Linked DNA regions of Homo sapiens. The protein of the gene in region 2 purifies or fractionates together with the protein of the main gene of each other region. This does not show direct contact. Each region holds a gene or a part of one and is shown on either strand. Other genes may lie near its edges.

The links.
Region 1: the proteins of MAPKAPK5 (region 2) and BCL7B purify together in Homo sapiens (affinity purification with mass spectrometry; one large-scale study listed by BioGRID and IntAct). This does not show direct contact.

Annotation. Positions count from the first base shown.
Region 1 is NC_000007.14:73,550,898-73,554,710, forward strand, and holds part of BCL7B (B-cell CLL/lymphoma 7 protein family member B), read right to left. Parts: intron 2,773-3,813; coding exon of another isoform or gene 2,651-2,772; intron 1,346-2,650; coding exon 1,270-1,345; intron 1-1,269. UniProt on the Homo sapiens protein: Positive regulator of apoptosis. Plays a role in the Wnt signaling pathway, negatively regulating the expression of Wnt signaling components CTNNB1 and HMGA1.
Region 2 is NC_000012.12:111,886,945-111,890,757, forward strand, and holds part of MAPKAPK5 (MAP kinase-activated protein kinase 5), read left to right. Parts: intron 1-1,543; coding exon 1,544-1,674; intron 1,675-1,940; coding exon 1,941-2,056; coding exon of another isoform or gene 2,057-2,062; intron 2,063-3,095; coding exon 3,096-3,200; intron 3,201-3,813. UniProt on the Homo sapiens protein: Tumor suppressor serine/threonine-protein kinase involved in mTORC1 signaling and post-transcriptional regulation. Phosphorylates FOXO3, ERK3/MAPK6, ERK4/MAPK4, HSP27/HSPB1, p53/TP53 and RHEB.

The DNA.
Region 1 (3,813 bases), on a different chromosome or scaffold from region 2:
CCGCCCGTCTCGGCCTCCCAAAGTGCTGGGATTACAGGCGTGAGCCACCACGCCCGGCCCACATATTTAAGTTTTGTTTAAACACAAAAATACACATATGAAACAATGCTATGTATTTTTAAAGAATATACAGGTATCCAAATACATCCAACAAAGATGAAGCACAAAGGTCTACACCAGAATTAGAAAGATGTATATACATATGATACACACAATACAGTGGGGGACTAATCGCATAAGAGCAAGTATCAGCAAACTTTTTCTTAAAGGGTCAGATGATAAATATTTTAGGTTTTACGGGCCATTTGGCCTTATGGCAACCACTCAATCTGCCACTGTAATTCAAAAGCACCACAGACAATAAGGAAATCAGTGGGCATACTTATGTGTTTGGTTTTTTTTGTTTGTTTGCTTATTTTCGAGATGGTGTGTCACACTGTTGCCCAGGCTGGAGTGCAGTGGCGGGATCTTGGCTCACTGCAACCTCTGCCTTACAGGTTCAAGCGATTCTCCTTGCCTCAGCCTCCTGAGTAGCTGGGATTACAGGTGCCTGCCAGCAGGCCTAGCTACTTTTTTTGTATTTTTAGTAGAGACAGGGGTTGCACTATGTTGGCCAGGCTGGTCTCGAACTCCCGACCTCAAGTGATCCGCCCACCTTGGCCTCCCAAAGTGCTGGGATTACAGGCGTGAGCCACCACGCCCAGCCAGTTATGTTCTAATAGAACTATACTGACAAACCTAAGGAATACGCCAGGGCTGTAGTTTGTCAAGCCCTGGAAAAGAGGCTTGGGTTAAGGGAAAGGAATAAAGTAGGAAAATAATAAAGAGAGGCCTTGCATGGACCAATAACAGGGTACCTTGAAGTATTTTCCACTCAATTCTGGGCAAATAAATTCCTTTAATTAAAAGGCAATTAGGCCGGGTGCAGTGGCTCACGCCTGTAATCCCAGCACTTTGGGAGGCTGAGGCAGGTGGGTCACGAGGTCAGGAGTTCAAGACCAGCCTGACCAACATGGTGAAACCCCGTCTCTACTAAAAATACAAAAATCAGCTGGGTGTGGTGGCAGATGCCTGTAACCCCAGCTACTTGGGAGGCTGAGGCAGAGAACTGCTTGAACCCAGGAGGTGGAGGTTGCAGTGAGCCAAGATCATGCCACTGCACTCCAGCCTGGGTGACACAGCGAGACTCCGTCCCAAAAAAAAAAAAAAAGAGGCAATCAAATAAAGAAATAAAGAAAATGGTATCTTTTGATTTTCTTCCACACTTACCTCCTTGCTGTCTGTCACAGGAACCCACTTAAATATCCTCAGGGACGTGTCACCCACAGTCACCCACTTCTTCTCCCTAAAAGAAAGACACTTCTTAGAACGGATAAAACAATGCAATGTGTTTTCTGTTCATCACTTGTGTTTTTCTACTACTCAGCAGATCATTCCTTCAATCTGGAATCCTTCTGAACTTCCTCTTGGTGGGGTATGGTAGCTCACACCTGAAATCCCAGCACTTTGAGAGGCTGAGGCAGGAGGATCACTCAAGCCTAGGAGGTTGAGAACAGCCTGGGCAATTTAGCGAGACCTCATCTCTAAAAAAAAAATACAGGCCAGGCGCAGCGGCTCACGCCTGTAAACCCAACACTTTGGGAGACTGAGGTGGGCAGATCGCTTGAGGTCAGGAGTTCGAGACCATCCCGGCCAACATGGTGAAACTCTGTCGCTACAAAAAAAAAACAAAAAGTAGCTGGGCGTGGTGGCGTGTGCCTGTAATCCCAGCTACTCCGGAGGCTAAGGTGGGAGGATCCCTTGAGCCCAGGTGGCAGAGGTTGCAGTAAACTGAGATCACGCCACCACACTCCAGCCTGGGCAACAGAGACCCTGTCTCAAAAGAAAGAAAGAAAAAAAAAAGGATGTGGGACATAAGGCTGGAAGGTAGCACACACAGCACCATATTCTTTTTTACTTGCATGCGAGTTACTTTGAGTGCTTTTCTCTTTACCAAATATATGAGTTCTATTACTACATTCCTTTTCTTTGTTTGTTTTAGTGAGACAGGGTCTCGTTCTGCCTCCCAGGCTGGAGTGAAGTGGCACAATCATAACTCACTGCAGCCTTGACCTCCTGGGCTCAAGCAATCCTTCCACCTCAGCCTCCTGAGTAGCTGGGACTAGAGGCGCACACCACCACGCCCAGCCAAATTTTTATTTTTTGTAGAGATGGTTGGGGTGGTGGGGTGGGGGTGGGGGGTCTCTCTTTGTTGCCCGCGCTGGTCTTGAACTCTTGGTCTCAAGCAGTCTGCCCACCTTGGCCTCCCAAAATGCTGGGATTACAGGCATGAGCCACCACACCTGGCCTCCTGTGTCCATTTAAAGACCCTTCCAAGGGGCAAACAATCTCAGGAGAGACACCTGCTGCTGGGGGGTATGGCCTGGTGGGTGTGAAATGTTAGGAACCTTTCCCTTTCTGGGTTACTAAGACTGCATAAAGAAAAAGAAAACTAGGCCAGGCGCGCTGGCTCACACCTGTAATCCCAGCACTTTGGGAGGCCAAAGTGGGCGGATCACGAGGTCAAGAGATCGAGACCATCCTAGCTAATACGGTGAAACCCTGTCTCTACTAAAAATACAAAAAATTAGCTGGGTGTGGTGGCACGCACCTGTAGTCCCAGCTACTCAGGAGGCTGAGGCAGGAGAATTGCTTGAACCTGAGAGGCAGAGGTTGCAGTGAGCCGAGATTGCGCCAATGCACTCCAGCCTGGGTGACAGAGCGAGATTCCGTCTCAAAAAAAAAAAGAAAGAAAACTAGTCTAAAGAAATTTTTAAATTTCAACTTTGAAGTTCAAAGCTTTGTAGAAATCCTGTCTCTTGCTGTGTTCCAAAGGGGTAAAAATGGCAGAGTTTATCAGTCCACTACGCTCACGAAATAAGCAAAGGGATAAGCCTTGCACAAGGTCACTCTCTAAATGACTAAGGACCCCCAACTATCTACACCAGATTAGAATGCCACTGTTCTGAGCTTACCCACAGAGTGCCTTCGAGGTCTGCAAACAAATGTGTGGAGGAGATAGAACAAAGGAGACTTTTTTTTTTTTTTTTTTTGAGATAGGGTCTCCGTCACCCAGGCTGGAGTGCAGTGGCGTGATCACCACTCCTTGCGGCCTCAAAATCCCAGGCTCAGGTGAATCTCCCATCTCAGCCTCCCAAGTAGCTGGGACTACAGGCCACCACGCCCAGTTAATTTTTTGTATTTTTAGTAAGGATAGGGTTTCACCATGTTGCCCAGGTTGATCTTGAACTCCTGGGCTCAAGCGATCCTCTTGCCTCAGCCTCTCGAAGTGCTGGGATTACAGGTGTGAGCCACCGTGCCCAGCCTCTCCTTCATTCCAAGAAGGTTATTCCCTAAGCGTGCAGGCAGAGAACAAATTTGCTTATTTTAAGGTCCACCAATACCTTAAGAGGTACTTGCTGTCAGTAGGAACAAGGGTCAAATGCAGGGAACTGCTTTGTCACAGATCTGAGCCAACTTCTCAAAGAGTCAAGTCCAAATATGAAGTCACGAAAAAGCAAAAAAAAAGCAACTGCTGTTGTAGTTGTTGATGCTGTTCAGCAAATGATGACATAATAGGGCCGGGCACGGTGGCTCACACCTGCAACCCCAGCACTTTAGAAGGCTGAGGTGGGTGGATCACTTGAGCCCAGGAGTTCGAGACCAGCCTGGGCAATATGGTGAAATCCTGTCCTCACTAAAAATACAAAAATTAGCCGGGCATGGTGGCGCACACCTGTAGTCCCGACTACTCAGGAGGCTGAGGCGGAAGAA
Region 2 (3,813 bases):
TTTTCGTGATAGACTAGATATAAGGGGACAGTTGTGGCATATCTGGTGATAACATTGACAGATTAGGAAGGAGGCTGGTTTGGGTGAGAGGGAGTCTTTTAGGTTTTAGATATTGTTTGAGATGGCAGAGGAACATTCAAATGAATGAGATTTATAGGGTGGGACCATAGTGTGGCTGTGAGCTCAAAGCGGTGACACAGACTTGAGTGTTAACAGCTTTGAAGGGGTAGGGTGGAAGTGTTAGACGTCTCTTTCTAAGTTTAGCTGGAGCATGGAAGAAAAAGGAGAACTGGAAAGTACAGTTCTCTGCCTTCTCTTTGATTTGTGGGTGGTTGTCTTCCTGTTGTCCAGAAATGGTTTGGTCATTCAAAAATCCAAAGGGATTACTTAGATCCTGGTTGTCAGCACATAGAGGTTACTCAAGATCTTAAAAATGAGGAGATAAGGCCAGGCATGGTGGCTTACGCCTGTAATCCCAGCAGTTTTGAGAGGCTGAGGCAGGCAGATCACTTGAGGTCAAGAGTTCCAGACTAGCCTGGCCAACATGAGGAAACCCCATCTCTACTGAAAATACAAAAATTAGCTGGGCGTGGTGGCATGCGCCTGTAATCCCAGCTACTCTGGAGGTTGAGGCAGGAGAATTGCTTGAACCTGGCAGCGGCAGAGGTTGCAGTGAGTCAAGACTGCACCACTGCACTCCAGCCTGGGAGACAGAGCAAGACTCTCTCAAAAAAATTCTTGTTGTGAAAATTCAGGTGGTACAGCCGTGTTAAAAAGTAAAAGTTCCCTTTCATTCCCTGCCACAGTCACACCCCTCAGAGGTGAGGTAATCTATGGCTTGATGTATACTTCCTGATCGTTTTCTGGGATACACACACACACACACACACACACACACACACACACACACATTCTGTCCTTCTTTTAAAGTACAAAAATGGAAAAAAAAATACAAAAATGGGATCATATTCCTATGAAGCCTTCTGATGATTTCGTCTGCCCGTAGTGAGATTATACACTGTTCATAAAAGCACAAACTTCCAGAGTTCCAGACTCCATGACAGCTATTTCTCACTGTAAATTACTTGACTGGTTGTGGCCTCGGTCATGTGGCCTCAGCCTTGGCCATGTGAGATGGTCAGGGCTCTGAGCTGTCAGGGCTGAGGTGAATCAATACCGTCTGTAAGGCTTCTTGGGCAGCAGCCTGCCAGCCTTTCCGCTGATGTCCATATGTGCCTCTTTACACTTCCCCTCAGTAGTGGCTTTGAGTGGGGTTCCTGCTGGTATTTCTTACTCGCATTTCTGTCCCCCCACCAGGGAAGAAGGGCTAGTTGTTGTGTGACCTTTGGTTGGCCTGGTGTTTCCTGGTTCCTGTTGATCCATGGGGAAAAGTCCTTTGCCTTATCAAAATATTTATATTCCTTCAGCATAAGAGTGAAATTACCTTCTTAGTACTTTGAGCTTTTCCTTTCCACTTTCTTAGACTGGCTTTTTAGGTGCCCAGCAATGAATATGAAAAACTGACGGCAGTGTTTGCATTCAGGCAGTGGTTGCAGGAATCCAGCAGGCTCACGCGGAACAGTTGGCCAACATGAGAATCCAGGATCTGAAAGTCAGCCTCAAACCCCTGCACTCAGTGAACAACCCCATTCTGCGGAAGAGGAAGTTACTTGGGTAACTGAGCTTATTTCTTCGATTCTTCTTCATGGCTGGAATGGCTGAGTACTGGGTTCTGAAATTTAAGAAATTTAACTTGCTCAGCTAGGGGTCTTTAGCCTCTGAAGAGGGTGGAGAGGATAAGTTCTTTAAATAGTATCAGGAGTTGGACACTATTGTTATTTTTCTGATACATCTGTTGCCTTATGTTTAGAGGTAATATCTGTCCAGAGTTGGTTTTTGGGGTCTCACGTTGTCATTACCCCTCCCTCAAACTCTTAAAGCACCAAGCCAAAGGACAGTGTCTATATCCACGACCATGAGAATGGAGCCGAGGATTCCAATGTTGCCTTGGAAAAACTCCGAGATGTGATTGCTCAGTGTATTCTCCCCCAGGCTGGTAAAGGTCACACCATTTACTAATCCTCTGTGTGTCTGTGAGTGTGTGTGTGCAGGGGTGGGTGGGTGTATGCATGCACATGGCAAAAGGAATGGTTTAATTTTGGGTTGTCTGTTTCATCTTGTGTTATAAGAAAAGTACATTATATAAGGTAGTCTATGCCCACTAAAAAGATTGGACAGTGGGAGCTTAGAAATGCAGTTAAGTTCTGCCCCTCCTTTGTTTCTGTGGAATTTCTAGTTTAGACTTAATTGGCAGTGTCAGGTGCAAGCATGCAATTTTGTGTTTTCTTAGTTTGACAACAAGGGCACAGGTTGGGGGATGGAGAATGGAAAATGTGGGTAGGGTCTGAATCTCATTGCAGGCTGTTAACCATTTCCAGAGCCTTTAGAGTGCAAGGCTGCCATTAGCTCATAAATAAGAGAATACCTCCTTAGTTCAGAAGTGGCTCCTGCTGCTACTCATGTCATGGGCAGAGTGACTTACACGTGGGTCCTTTGGAGTGAGAGCTTTCTTTCGTTATGTTCTCTCTCCACTCATCGGCGGGTGAGGGGCTATTCTCAGCAGATAAATGAGATGCTTCACGTACTAGGCCAGAAAACAGTTGGGTTGACCTATCTATCTCCCTAGATTCCTTGGGTTTTAAGAGAACTCATGTAGTGTACCTCAGATAGCTTTCTAAAGTAAGAAATGAGCTTAGGGGAGAGAAAGTAGCCCACTCTCCCACTTTTTGGTCTTTGGTTGACCAGGTGTCTTTTGTTCAGCAATAGAGTCTGCCACAGCCTATTTCCCATCCCCTGGTGCTAAGACTCTGGGGCCATCAGTGGATTTGTATAAAGATGTCAGAGTAAAAAAGAGTCCACATACCAGATGCGGTCTACATAATGTAGGGACTAGCAGTAAAGCCCTTGTCTGGTGAAGTTTTGCACATTCAGTCAACATTTTTCAACCAGTTGGACATCACGTCCCTCCATCTCTCACACTAAAACCCCATGATGCTGCAGGAAAAATGCAAATTCCTCTTCATCCTTACCAATAGGAGAGAATGAAGATGAGAAACTGAATGAAGTAATGCAGGAGGCTTGGAAGTATAACCGGGAATGCAAACTCCTAAGAGATACTCTGCAGAGCTTCAGCTGGAATGGTAGGAGCCTTCATCAACTCCCTTCCCCAGGAATGCAGACAAGTGATTATGTTTAGAACATATAGGATCTCTTTGGGGCCTGAGCTGCGGCTGTTTTGAAGTGAAGTGAGGCTGGCTGGAGAGTGAGTGGAGCATTGTGGAATGGGGGTTAGCTCTACATTAACTGCCCAGGCATACCTGGATATCTGGCCCTTTCACTTATTTTCCGGAGTTCAAGTGAATTGTGTATTGCAGATTCAACACTAGAAAGCCCCCATCACACACCACTTGGGTAAAAAAAACCCCCAAATTTCAGAACTCCTCTCAGATACCAGGACTATTCACCAGGTCATTAAGAAGCAACAGATGCTGAAGGGGAGAAAGAGGACAAAGTGCCAGCGAGTCCACCCTGCTGATCCCGCTGATCTGCTTGGCTTAGAGAAGAGCTGTTTCACGAAAGAGGAGAAAGTTTGCCAAATCTACTGCTGGTTAAGTTTTTTTCCCGAAGCAAATAAGGTAGAGATGAATTTCTTGAACTGCCTTGTTTTTCTTGAGGCGGAGTTTCACTCTGTCCCTCAGGCTGGAGTGCAGTGGCGCAATCTTTGCTCATTGCAACCTCTGCCTTCCGGGTTCA